4 linked regions of the Homo sapiens genome follow. The protein of the gene in region 4 purifies or fractionates together with the protein of the main gene of each other region. This does not show direct contact. Each region holds a gene or a part of one and is shown on either strand. Other genes may lie near its edges. The genes, in order: TMEM201, AXL, ATF6 and KCNG4.

The links.
Region 1: the proteins of KCNG4 (region 4) and TMEM201 purify together in Homo sapiens (affinity purification with mass spectrometry; one large-scale study listed by BioGRID and IntAct). This does not show direct contact.
Region 2: the proteins of KCNG4 (region 4) and AXL purify together in Homo sapiens (affinity purification with mass spectrometry; one large-scale study listed by BioGRID and IntAct). This does not show direct contact.
Region 3: the proteins of KCNG4 (region 4) and ATF6 purify together in Homo sapiens (affinity purification with mass spectrometry; one large-scale study listed by BioGRID and IntAct). This does not show direct contact.

The regions. Positions count from the first base shown.
Region 1 is NC_000001.11:9,591,887-9,595,481, reverse strand, and holds part of TMEM201 (transmembrane protein 201), read right to left. Parts: intron 1-3,595. UniProt on the Homo sapiens protein: Critical regulator of angiogenesis and endothelial cell (EC) migration. Promotes the migration of endothelial cells, which is essential for angiogenesis.
Region 2 is NC_000019.10:41,259,724-41,262,340, forward strand, and holds the end of AXL (tyrosine-protein kinase receptor UFO isoform 1 precursor), read left to right. Parts: coding exon 1-181; 3' UTR 182-2,043; downstream 2,044-2,617. UniProt on the Homo sapiens protein: Receptor tyrosine kinase that transduces signals from the extracellular matrix into the cytoplasm by binding growth factor GAS6 and which is thus regulating many physiological processes including cell survival, cell proliferation, migration and differentiation.
Region 3 is NC_000001.11:161,772,725-161,776,319, reverse strand, and holds part of ATF6 (cyclic AMP-dependent transcription factor ATF-6 alpha), read right to left. Parts: intron 1-3,595.
Region 4 is NC_000016.10:84,223,013-84,226,512, forward strand, and holds part of KCNG4 (voltage-gated potassium channel regulatory subunit KCNG4), read right to left. Parts: intron 9-3,500; coding exon 1-8. UniProt on the Homo sapiens protein: Regulatory subunit of the voltage-gated potassium (Kv) channel which, when coassembled with KCNB1, modulates the kinetics parameters of the heterotetrameric channel namely the time course of activation, deactivation and inactivation and on the voltage-dependence of activation.

The sequences.
Region 1 (3,595 bases), on a different chromosome or scaffold from region 4:
CCAGGTTCGAGGACCACCCCTCCCCCACGAGGTCCTTGATCCTGGGCTGCAGAAAGGGTGCGCCCCAGGGAGCCTCCAGATTGAAAGGGGCCTCCTGTGCTCCAGAGAGAGACAGTCCCAGGATGTGAGAGCCAAGGAGGCTGAGGGGAGGGAGCAAGTGACAGCTGCCCAGCCTGGGGCCAACCCTCTCTGGTGGAGAGGACAGTGGCCCTCGCTGGCTACACGTGTGGTGACAGGTGGGGCCTCGGGATAATCCCAGCCCAGACACTGGGGGATCTATGCTCTGGGCCCCCCTCTACCCACCTCATTGGTTGTGGGACACTGGGGGACTGGGGAGGGGTGGGCAGAGAGACCGCCACTGCCCAAAAAAGCCCCCCAGTTCCGGAAATCCAGGAACAATGTGGGTGACAGGCAGCAGCTGTGGGAGCCCTGGGGCCCCGGCTTTGCTGCTCCGACTCTCCACCTCTCCCCCAGGGGCCACCTCCAGCTCGAGGACACCGCTTGAGCCCCTGCCAGAGTGGGCAGCCACTCCCTGCACAGACGGCCCCCCGTCCACAGGACCAGAGAGCACGGCCCTCTGGCCTTTCATCCTGAGGCGCTGCTCAGAGAAAGGAGGACGGAGCCCCAGGAAGTTCCTGTACTCTCAGCCTCAGTGTCCACATCTGTGAAGTGGGGGCAACCACAGCACCCCCGGCTTCTGCATGCTGCAAGGACGCAGTGACACAAGACAGAAAGGTGCTGTGCTCTGCAAAGAGCCAGCTCTGTCGCTAACCCATCGGGCTGGCCAGGGGCCTGAGGGGGAGGCTGGGCCCTGGGAAGCAGGGCTCCCGCTTCTGACACTACTGCTGCTGCCCGGCCCTCCCCTCCACCCCCTTCTCCTGACCAGGGGCATATGAAGGGAGATGTGTGATCACCTGTCAGCTGGGGACAAAAGCACCTCCCTCACAAGGGACTGCTCGTGGGACGCACTTAACAGTGACTGGCCTAGAGTATGTACGCAAAAAAGCCAAGTTACATGGAGTGGGGGGAGGCTTGGGAGAGAAGGGGAGATGGGACCAGGCCCTGCGGGGAAGGCCCAGGGCCCACAGGGGCAGCTGGGATCTCCCCCAGCAGCCTCGGCCCACACCCTTCTCACCCCACACCCCCTGCCCCAGCACAGGCCCAAGCCCTCACAGAGGACAAGGACCGCTGCATCTTGTCAACAGCATGGAGACAGCGGGCAAGGCCTGCAGACCAGCGACGAAACGGAGCCAGCCAGCTGGGCAGGCAGTATGGCAACAGGCATGGCCTTGGAGAGCAGCTCTGCCTTCTAGGGCCGCAGTCTCATCCCTCACCTGTCAAAAGGGGCTGCTGAGCATCCCTGCCCCAGGAGAGGCCACTGTGAGGATCCTACAGGAGAATGCAGGGAGGCGCTCAGTGCTCGGCATTAGGACAGCGCCACCGGGCGCCGACTACATGAACAGCCAGGGAAGGAGACTCGCTCTGGGGCATGTGGAGACCTGCTCTGCTGCGGTGCCCGCATCTAGCACTCCCGGGCAACTAAGCACGTGGACTTCCCTGTGCTAATTACTAGCTGTTGTACAGGCTTCTTTGTAACTGTGCATGGGGGCGTGTCCTGATGGGTGAAGACCTGCTTGTGTGACCCCCCACCCCTGAGCCGGACAAGGCTCTGCACCCAACTGACTTTGGGTGACAGGCTTCCTATCCCCACGGAAGGCCCCTCAGCTCTCTTACCCTGTTTGAAAAGGAAGGTCAACCCTTGAGCCTGCCTAGGGGACCAATGACAGCTGAGCAGGGGCTGTGGCTTCTGTCCAGGGTGCCTGCCATGAAGCCCCGCCCACCCCAGGAAGTCATGTTTCCATTCTGAATCTCCTGCTCTGTTGCTAGGGAAATGGCTCCACTGATCTAGAATGAGGCGGCCCGGAAGAGGGGGGAGGCAAGGGATTAGCCCTTGTCCCTGGGGCCAGCAGCTCTAACTCCTGTCACTCTCAGCCCTGGGTAATCCCTGCTAGAGTTGGGGGTGGGCTCTCTGGTGGCCAGAGCAGCTGCCACCCACTTTGGCCAGGCGGGCCCTACCTGCCAGGGGGTCCTCTCCCACAGTGCCTTTGGGGGTGAGCCCTGAAAGGTCCCAAGAGGCAGGTAGGCCAGGGGTCGATGGGGAGCTGGGCATGAATTGCAGGTCCCCCAGGCACCAGCACGGCGGCGTCAGACACATGACCACATGTGAAACACTGTCCACAGCTCGGACGAGGTCCCCACGCAGGTGGGGGAAGTCCTGGCCCCTAGCCTATGCTTGCCTCTGCCCGGCCTGTTGAGGCAGCATCTGGGTCAATCTCTTCTGAGCCAGCCTAGGCTGGACCCTGTTTTTGCTCTGGGAGAAGCCCCCAAGTTTCCCTGATAAACCCCTCAGCCCACTTCTCTTCTGCAAGCCAACAACCTCCGTCCTTAACTTGACTCTGGGACAAACCACAGTTGGTGGGCAAGGTTTGAGGTAACGTGACAGAATGTCCCTGCAACACAAGCAAGAGAGGAGCTCGGGCCTGGAGGGGCTGCCCCTGCCCACAACGGTTCCAGCTCTGGGGGGACAGCAGCTGGCCCTATGGGTCCCATTTGATGGGTGGACACGAGGGCCTGGAGGCCACTATCTCGGCTCCTGCTAGCTCGATGCCGAGCCCCTGGGAAGCCTGAGGAAGCCCGGAGGGAGATGGGTCCCTAAGAAAAAGCTAGGGCAGCTGCATGCTCTGTACCTGCCCCGTCCACAAGCCCAACATACACACTGAGGGAAAACAAGACGGGCACGTGTCCTTAATGATGACACCACTCCAGAGCCCTGAGCACGGACATGTATTGAAACAAAGCTCCTGCGGGATGCCTCACTATTCCCTGCAGGTGGGAGGGGCTCTGTTCTAGGTGCGAGCCCAGCGCTGGGTCCTCAGCCTAGGAAAGCACCAGGTAGGGGGAACCTGCTAGAGGGGGCACTGGATGGGGCTTGGTCCCTGCCCTGGGGAGCTCAGTGGTTGTAGCAGGCTGGCCAGCTCCCAGAGTCTCTGCCCAGCCCTGGGAAATCATCACCTCCTCAGACAGGGGCCTTAGCACATTGCTCAGGACCTGGGACACTGTGTGCTGGCCCCAGTGCGGGGTTGGAAAGACTGTAAGAGTCAGGTTCCCTCAGGGGCCAGGGAGCCAGAGGCCAGCCTCCCAAGCAGCTCCTCACCTGCACTTCCCGCTTAAGTGGGCAACACCGTGTTTCATTCAACCAGAAGGACCAGAGAAGAGGCCTCCTGGGCTTCAGCGACAGAAGCATCAAAATGCAACTCAGAACTTAGCACTGCCAGGGCCTCCAGCCCATCTCCAAGCAAAACATACTTGAATCCACAGCAGCAACTCCAACATCAGGATGGAAAACGCCCCAATCCACCATTCTAGGGTCGCTCCTGGTGCGAGCGGAACATCCCATCAGTTAAGCAAGCACCACCCTAGGCTGGCAGAGATGCAAACGTGAGCAAGACAAGAACGACGACCTCCCAGGGCAGCTGGTGACAGATACCACAGGACAGAGGCCAATAAGCGGGGCATCTGCGGTCGCCCTGAAGCA
Region 2 (2,617 bases), on a different chromosome or scaffold from region 4:
AGCTGCAGGAGGAGCTGACCCCCCAACCCAGCCAGACCCTAAGGATTCCTGTAGCTGCCTCACTGCGGCTGAGGTCCATCCTGCTGGACGCTATGTCCTCTGCCCTTCCACAACCCCTAGCCCCGCTCAGCCTGCTGATAGGGGCTCCCCAGCAGCCCCAGGGCAGGAGGATGGTGCCTGAGACAACCCTCCACCTGGTACTCCCTCTCAGGATCCAAGCTAAGCACTGCCACTGGGGAAAACTCCACCTTCCCACTTTCCCACCCCACGCCTTATCCCCACTTGCAGCCCTGTCTTCCTACCTATCCCACCTCCATCCCAGACAGGTCCCTCCCCTTCTCTGTGCAGTAGCATCACCTTGAAAGCAGTAGCATCACCATCTGTAAAAGGAAGGGGTTGGATTGCAATATCTGAAGCCCTCCCAGGTGTTAACATTCCAAGACTCTAGAGTCCAAGGTTTAAAGAGTCTAGATTCAAAGGTTCTAGGTTTCAAAGATGCTGTGAGTCTTTGGTTCTAAGGACCTGAAATTCCAAAGTCTCTAATTCTATTAAAGTGCTAAGGTTCTAAGGCCTACTTTTTTTTTTTTTTTTTTTTTTTTTTTTTTTGCGATAGAGTCTCACTGTGTCACCCAGGCTGGAGTGCAGTGGTGCAATCTCGCCTCACTGCAACCTTCACCTACCGAGTTCAAGTGATTTTCCTGCCTTGGCCTCCCAAGTAGCTGGGATTACAGGTGTGTGCCACCACACCCGGCTAATTTTTATATTTTTAGTAGAGACAGGGTTTCACCATGTTGGCCAGGCTGGTCTAAAACTCCTGACCTCAAGTGATCTGCCCACCTCAGCCTCCCAAAGTGCTGAGATTACAGGCATGAGCCACTGCACTCAACCTTAAGACCTACTGTTCTAAAGCTCTGACATTATGTGGTTTTAGATTTTCTGGTTCTAACATTTTTGATAAAGCCTCAAGGTTTTAGGTTCTAAAGTTCTAAGATTCTGATTTTAGGAGCTAAGGCTCTATGAGTCTAGATGTTTATTCTTCTAGAGTTCAGAGTCCTTAAAATGTAAGATTATAGATTCTAAAGATTCTATAGTTCTAGACATGGAGGTTCTAAGGCCTAGGATTCTAAAATGTGATGTTCTAAGGCTCTGAGAGTCTAGATTCTCTGGCTGTAAGGCTCTAGATCATAAGGCTTCAAAATGTTATCTTCTCAAGTTCTAAGATTCTAATGATGATCAATTATAGTTTCTGAGGCTTTATGATAATAGATTCTCTTGTATAAGATCCTAGATCCTAAGGGTCGAAAGCTCTAGAATCTGCAATTCAAAAGTTCCAAGAGTCTAAAGATGGAGTTTCTAAGGTCCGGTGTTCTAAGATGTGATATTCTAAGACTTACTCTAAGATCTTAGATTCTCTGTGTCTAAGATTCTAGATCAGATGCTCCAAGATTCTAGATGATTAAATAAGATTCTAACGGTCTGTTCTGTTTCAAGGCACTCTAGATTCCATTGGTCCAAGATTCCGGATCCTAAGCATCTAAGTTATAAGACTCTCACACTCAGTTGTGACTAACTAGACACCAAAGTTCTAATAATTTCTAATGTTGGACACCTTTAGGTTCTTTGCTGCATTCTGCCTCTCTAGGACCATGGTTAAGAGTCCAAGAATCCACATTTCTAAAATCTTATAGTTCTAGGCACTGTAGTTCTAAGACTCAAATGTTCTAAGTTTCTAAGATTCTAAAGGTCCACAGGTCTAGACTATTAGGTGCAATTTCAAGGTTCTAACCCTATACTGTAGTATTCTTTGGGGTGCCCCTCTCCTTCTTAGCTATCATTGCTTCCTCCTCCCCAACTGTGGGGGTGTGCCCCCTTCAAGCCTGTGCAATGCATTAGGGATGCCTCCTTTCCCGCAGGGGATGGACGATCTCCCACCTTTCGGGCCATGTTGCCCCCGTGAGCCAATCCCTCACCTTCTGAGTACAGAGTGTGGACTCTGGTGCCTCCAGAGGGGCTCAGGTCACATAAAACTTTGTATATCAACGAGCTTCTGTCTCCTCTTGTCTCCTTTTAGCTGTGATGTGGCCCCATTCCCTGGCAATTCAGTTCCCCCATCAGAAAAAAGAAGGGCTTGGTAGGGTCTTGGAATTCTGTCCTCACTAGAGAGGGTAGAAATGAACACACAGATAGACAAAAAGACATACAAGCAAAGAGATGCAGGTTCTCAGAAACCCCCAGTGAGGAACTGGCATACAGATCCAGGATCACAGACACACACACACACACACACACCTGTTCCGCCGCAAACTAACAGACACATGAATTAATGGACACACCCAGGAGGACCTGGTCACAAATACAGAGACTGAAACTCAGACGCATAGAGTAACACAGACACACAGAATTACACAGACACAAGCATATTTACAAACATGCTCAGGCAGATACCCGCCACGAATAGGAAGAGACACAGACCTAGAGTCAAGTGACACAAATACTCAAGAGACATGTAGAGTACAACAGGTACTCACAACCCCGAACGTTCAGACTGACATAGAAACACAGGCACAGAACACCTCCGATCATCACGGACCCACAAAGGGCCTCCAGCGAAGACCAG
Region 3 (3,595 bases), on a different chromosome or scaffold from region 4:
TGCCAGCATGCCCCAGCCCAGTGGGAGGGGGAATGGAGTAGCAGATGGAAAACGCAGGCTGAGTGGTTAGGAGAGTGGTCATACTGAACAAATATGTTAGGTGACTGAGCAAATGGTTGAATATATCTAAAATAATTAGAATGCTCTGGTTTCTCTTCAGAACGAATGAATCTTTTGCCTTTTACTAAAATAATTGGAGTCAGATTTCTCACAGTCTGAGAAAGGATTTAAGAGCATGGAAAGAGTCGGGAGACTAAAAGAATCCTAAGATGTTGGATTAGAACTAGAAGTATTAGTAAATAAACTCATTTAAAATATAACACATACAGATAGCTGTGGAAGTATATATATATGTACACACATATGCAGATGTTTGTATTATGCATATATACATATATACACATGCACATATATATATATATACACACATGTATATATATTTCCTAGTTCTGTCTGCTAAGAGGTCCTAGAAGCAATGACATCCCAGTAGCAATGAAAATACTGGGTGACCAGATCTTGGATACTAAATACCATCTTCCACCAAACAGAAGTCCACTAAGGGGTTCCTTGGAGAAATAACCAATTCCAGGGCTTGCAGCAGGGAAAGTGCAAAATAAGCCTGGAAATCTTGCTGTGCCAGAAATTCTCAGCAAATGACAGGAATATGTCAAAAAGAACAAAGGCCCCAATATGAATGAATTCTCAGTGGTCAAATCTGGGAAAATCTGAGCATCAGAATAAAATGAGAGTAGCGGTTTACCAACCACCAAATAAAAAAGGAATCAATGAGTTCATCACGGAACAAAGGAAGGAAGGAAGGTAGGTAGGTAGGTTGGTTCTTATAGTGCAATGTCAATCAACAATGATAGAATGATAGACAGAATGATAGAGTTAGATAGTTACCATTTGGCAACCATTAGAGTGGTAACTGATATAGATTGGGGTTATTAATGAGGCTAGGGCTCGTGGTTAGAGGTTTAATAAGAAAAGGATATTGGTGTTATGTCAGATTATCTCCCCCAAAATAGCAATAAAATACAAAATGGGAAGCAGTGGCTTTACAGTGGTGAAACCTAGAAGATACCAACTTGACCAAGTGATCATGTGACTATATCACAGGATGATATGATGGCATAGGAACATCGCATAGTATTTACACTATAATGTATACCCTCATTTTATTCTGATGCCAAATTTTCCCAGATTTGACCACGGGGAGTTCATTCATATTGGGGCCTTTGTTCTTTTTAACATGTTCATTTGCTGAGAATTTCTGGCCCAAGATTTTCCAGGCTTATTTTGCACTTTCCCTGCACTTTCCCAGCCCTGGAATTGGTCATTTTTCCAAGGAACCCCTTAGTGGTTTAGGATCATCTTGTCGAATAAAAGACTTCTACTCTTTAAGACTGTCAAGGACATTAGAGACAGGAAAAGACTAAAGAACTGTTCCAGATTAAAGGACACTGATGAGACATGATAAGTAAAAGCAATGAGTGTTTGCAAGTAAAATCCTAGACTAGAAAAGCAAATCATTATTGAAACAGATGGCAAACTTTGAATGGTGTCTTTGAATTGGATGACACTGTTGTATCAATGTTTATCTCCTGACTGGAAGAAATATAGGGTAGTAATAGAGGAAAGTGGCCTTCTTTTGGGAGGCAGGAGGATAGAGAGTATACACTACAGTATTTAAAGGTGATGGGTCAACACATCTCTCTCTCTTGAAAGGGAGAAAGAGAGAAATTGAGTAAATGCAGTAAAATTTAACAACTGAGGAGTCTGTGTAAAAGGCATGCAAGAGTTCTTTGCACTGTTCTTAAAACTTTTCTATAGATTTCAAACTATTTCAAAATTTTAAAATGTATGTATATATATGTGTGTATGTGTGTGTGTGTGTGTGTGTGTGTGTGTGTACATATCCATAATCCAACTACTTCTCATTACTCCACTGCTACTATTGTAACTCATGGGGATTGCTATAACAGCCTCCAAAACGTCTCCCTGCTTCTGCCCTTGCCCCTCTTTCAGTTTATTTCCAACAGAGCTGCTGAAGTGAGCCTATAAAAACAAAGGATGTTATTGGGAATCAGGATTCTCATAGCGGCAGAAGAGAAATACAAGCATATGGTGCAAGAAGGTGAAAAAGAACCCTGTGATGTTAGCTTTGAAGTATAAAGCATATTAAAATGAATTGATGCTTTTTAAAAATAAACATTTCCTCATTCTTAGGAAATACATGGTGAAGTGTTTAGGAGTTTCATATTATCTGCAGCCCACTTTCAGATGTGAAAAAGGAGGAAAGTGTGGGTAATATTAAGATATAAAGTGAATGTGGCACGATGTTAACAGTTGGTAAATCTAGATAAGGAAAACGCACGTTTATCAGTGTACTGATCTTTTGACTTTTCTGTGGTTAAAAAAATAACTGAAGGTGGGTTGATAAATATACTCGTATATTTATAGAACATTCCAAAAGAATCCATAAGAAACTGTTAGCATCAGTTACCCCAAAGTATCCTAAAACCTATTGCCTATTTCTATATCCTTTGCACCAGTCCCACACTATTAGATTTCCCTCAACAGTAGTAAATAATGGTAGTTACTATTTTTAGTGTACTCAACAAACTTTCCCACCTCACCTCCACCTTGCCCATTTATTTATTCATTTACTCCTTATAAGTTTAATAAGATCAGACACAGTCACTGGGTTTAGCAATGTGGAAATCAGTAGTGCCCTTAAAAACAGCAGTTTCAGGCCAGGCATGATGGCTCACGCCTGTAATCCCAGCACTTTGGAAGGCCGAGGCGGGTGGATCACATGAGGTCGGGAGTTTGAGACCAGCCTGGCCAGCATGGTGAAACCCCATCTCTACTAAAAATACAAAAATTAGTGGCTGACGCCTGTAATCTCAGCACTTTGGGAGGCCAAGGTGGGCAGGCGGATCATGAGGTCAGGAGATCAAGACCATCCCGGCTAACACGGTGAAACCCCGTCTCTACTAAAAATACAAAAAAAAATTTAGCCAGGTGTGGTAGCAGGTGCCTGTAGTCCCAGCTACTCGGAAGGCTGAGGCAGAAGAATGGCGTGAACCTGGGAGGTGGAGCTTGCAGTGAGCCGAGTGAGCCACTGCACTCCAGCCTGGGTAACAGAGAGAGACTCCGTCTCAAAAAAAAAAAAATACAAAAAGTAGCCGGGCATGGTGGCAGGCGCCTGTAATCTCAGCTACTCAGGAAGCTGAGGCGGGAATCGCTTGAATCCAGGAGGTGGAGGTTACAGTGAGCCAAGATCGTGCCATTGCACTCTAGCCTGGGCAACAGAGCAAGACTCTGTCTCAAAAAAAAAAAAAAAAAAAAAACAGGAGTTTCAGTGGAGTGGTGGCACCTGACTGGACTGGGTTCAAGAGACAAGGAGAAATAAAAAACTAGAGTCAGTGAACGTGGACATTTTTTAAAAGGAATTCTGCTGTAACATACAGTAGAGAAATGCAGTAACAGCAAGAGGTGAAGTAACATCTGAAGAGAGTTTTGAGTTTGTTGGTTTTGTTTTTTTTTTTTTTAACTCTAGCTAGAGTACTATCTAGATATAGAAACAGTA
Region 4 (3,500 bases):
CATTCGCCCTGCGGGGAGAAGAGGCAACAACGCGGGGTAGAGAGTGGACTTGCAACTGTGCTGGAAATCGGGGGACGACTTCATGCCCATGAGCTTTGTGCTGTAAACTTAGTCGTCCACCAGAACCTCCTTTTACACAGTTTTCCAGTTGTGGCTGGGTACACAGCAGATCGGCTAGGTCAGAGACTGTTCTTTCTGGCTTCCCTTGCCGCTAGGTGTGGCCAAATATGACTAAGTCCTCACCTCCGGACTGGAAACAGAAGTGATGCAAACCACCTCTGGATCTAACTCTTGCACACTCTTTCCATCCTTCCTGTGAGCCGGGACAGCACAAATGGGCCTGCAACCCAGCTAAGAAGAGAGGACTGGACCAGCGCCCCAGGGGAGGAGGGAACATCAAGGCGGGAGAATCTGGAATAAGAGTTGTCGATACTCACCTACATCCCTCACCTTGGGACTATTGCACAAGAGAAAAATTTGGCTTAAAACTATTCTAGTTTGGGGTCTCTTTGTTATAGCTGCCAGCCTGTACCTTAATGATGTTAAGTACCTTGGGGGACCACGCACTGCTCTCCTGCTGTCACTCAAGCCACATAGCAATGTTATGAGCAGGCAGTGTGACCCCATTTGATGGCCCAGGAAGTTGGTCACAGCAGTGAAGTGACTCGCCTGAGCTCACATACATAGGAGGCGGTACCAGGGTCTCTTAGATACTGTTGGCTATTTTGTAACTTTGTTGTTTACCACCCCTCATTCATTTAGCTAACAGAAATGTATGGAGGGCCCACTTTGTGCCAGGCATGGTTCTAACCCCGGGCATTCTGTGACTAGACAAACAGATATCGTTTCTGATGGCTTGAAGGCTGGTGGGGCAGAGAGGGTTCCTGAATCCCCAAGACAGCCCTTGGGATGTGTGATTGCTGCCATCGACATGCGGGATTCTAGCTCAGCAGTTCCAGCTGGGCGGGGGCCGTTCTGAGTTCTGTATTTTGTTCTTCCTCCCCAGTAGTTCAGGGTAGTTCCACCAGTCCTTCTGCCACTCAAAGTGTGGACCTTGAGCCAAAAGCATCAGCCTCCCCGAGGAGCTTGTTAGAAACACAGCATCTCAGGCCCCACCCCATCCCACGGAATCATATTCTGCAGTTAACAAGGTCTCCAGGTGACTCATGCAAACTGAAGTTTGACAGGCACTGTTCTAGTGTGTGGTTCTCAAGCTTGGCTGCATGTTGGAATCACCTGGGGGTTCCTTGAAACATTCTGTTGCTTGGGCAGGGTCCTCCCAAGATTCTAATTTAATTAATGTAGGTTTGAGCTGCACAGTAGAATTTTCCAGAACCCCCATGGATAATTCAAATGTGGAGCCAGGGTAGAAAACTTTGCTATACATATTTACACACACACACACACACACACACACACACACACACAGATATGTATATTTGATGGATGAATGGATGAATGGCCAAAGCAACTTCTCTGTGTAAAAGGCAAGGTGTTGACAACCACAGTTTTCTCTGGATTAAAATGCTCTGAAATGGAAAAAGAAATTATTTCCAGTGTCCACAGAAATCATAAATTGAAATGTTCTTTATGCCTGGCTGCTGGAGAAAGAGAAAGAGACTGAACCACGACAGTCTCTATTTGCCTGTCCAGGGCAGGGCACCTTTCTGGCTGGACTTCTGTGTGGACTATTGCAGGGGTGGGAGTCAGAGGCAGCACTGCCAAGGGGTGGAGTCCAGAGTGTTCCAGCCTCTTCTTTGGAAACTGAAGCACAGAGAGGGTCAGTGGCCAGTGCGAAGCCACACAGCAAGTTTTTAGCAAGATTGGAGAATCAGGAACTTTCTGTGCCCTACCAGCCTTCAAGCCCCCCAGAAACCATGTCTGCTTGTCTAGTTACAATACTCTCAGAGCCTAGCGCAGTTTCAAATCCCATCTCTTCCACTTACTTGGGCAAATCACTTGTCTCCTCTGGACTTTCAGTTGTCTAACCTCTGGAGGGCTGTCATGATGAATGGAAATTATGCACATAAAGCCATTAACAGGACCGTGCACCTAGCAGGCACAGGATGCGCTGTAGCCATTTTAACCGAACTATACATTGGTCATGGACCACAGTCTCCTGGTCAGTGTAAGGGTAGCAATACCTTCTTCCTGTTGCTGGATATTACAGGAAGATGAGGGGATTCTCCAGCCCACCGAGAGGTCTTTGCCATGACTGCCCAGGGTTTGCTTCAGGATCCTGAAGGGCTCAGAAGTTTTGGGTTCTGATTCCCCAGCCCTGCTACAAACTTGCTGTGTGACTTTGCAGCGGCCACTGGCCCTCTCTGTGCTTCAGTTTCCAATGCAGAGTTTGGAACAGAATTGGTATTTCTGAAAGCTGATTTGGAAACCCTGGCACCAGAAGCCCCCAGGGTGCTTGTTGTAAATGCAGATTCTTGGGCCCCCATCACAAAATCCAAACCTTAGGGTGGGGCCCGGGAATCTACATTTTGGTAACTCCCCCCATTCACTCTGAGGCACCTGGAAGGTTTTCAGACTCTGAGCTAGATTCTGCCTACAAGGCCTCTCTCTTTGCAGACATCCTGGGAGTTTCTCCCTAGGCTTAAAATACTTATAGCCTGGGAATAACTTTTCCATACTGATGACCCGATAGCTCAGGAAGGTGACTCCTGAGAGGCCGAGAAGGCGCTGCCAGGTCCTCCTCCTGCCTGTGGGGCTGGCATTTGGACACTCAAGCCATGCACACCGGCTCCTGCCCTCCCACGGCCTGGCCCTCTGGCCACCTCTCTGGACTGCAGCAAGGGCTCTGCTCTGCCGCGTCACTGCACCTGCATCAGGCTCTGCTGTGCATCCTAAATCCAGCCTCCCAGCACTGGTTCCTCAGAAATGCTGGCATTGGGGCAGGGGGTGTTTATGGAGTGTGGGCAGAGGAAATAACTCCCAGCTTAGCAAACATTCGAAGAAAAGAAAAAAAGGGGAAAGAAGGAAAGAAAAAAGTTTTCCTTTCTCCCTTTGTGGAAGTTCTGTGCTTAAACCCAGAAAGTTCCGGGTCCTAGGAACCCCCTGGGCCCTGGGCACACCGGGATGGTTGGTCACCCTATTCCTAGCCCTTGCCACAGGCAGAGCGAGGTGTGTTCTGGCTCCTTCCTGCAATGAAGAAGAGCAAGCGTCAGCCTGGAGAAGGCCCAGGGTGTGAATGGTGAAACAACACCGATGAATCCCACAGGCATGATGTGGAGCAAAGCAAGCCGGGTGTGTGTTTCCACTTGTGGGAAGCTCGAGAACAGGCAGCCTCATCTAGGGTGCACAAAGTGATCAGAACAGTGGCTGCCTCTGGGTAGTGTAGGGATGGCCTGTGAAGGGCCACGAGGGAGCTTTCTGGGGTCACAGAAATATTCTATACTCACAGGGGAGAGGCTGACACGGGTGCATCCGTTTATTAAATTCTACACCTAGGATTTGTGCATTTCAGTGTATGTACATTTCACCTGTAAAACTGT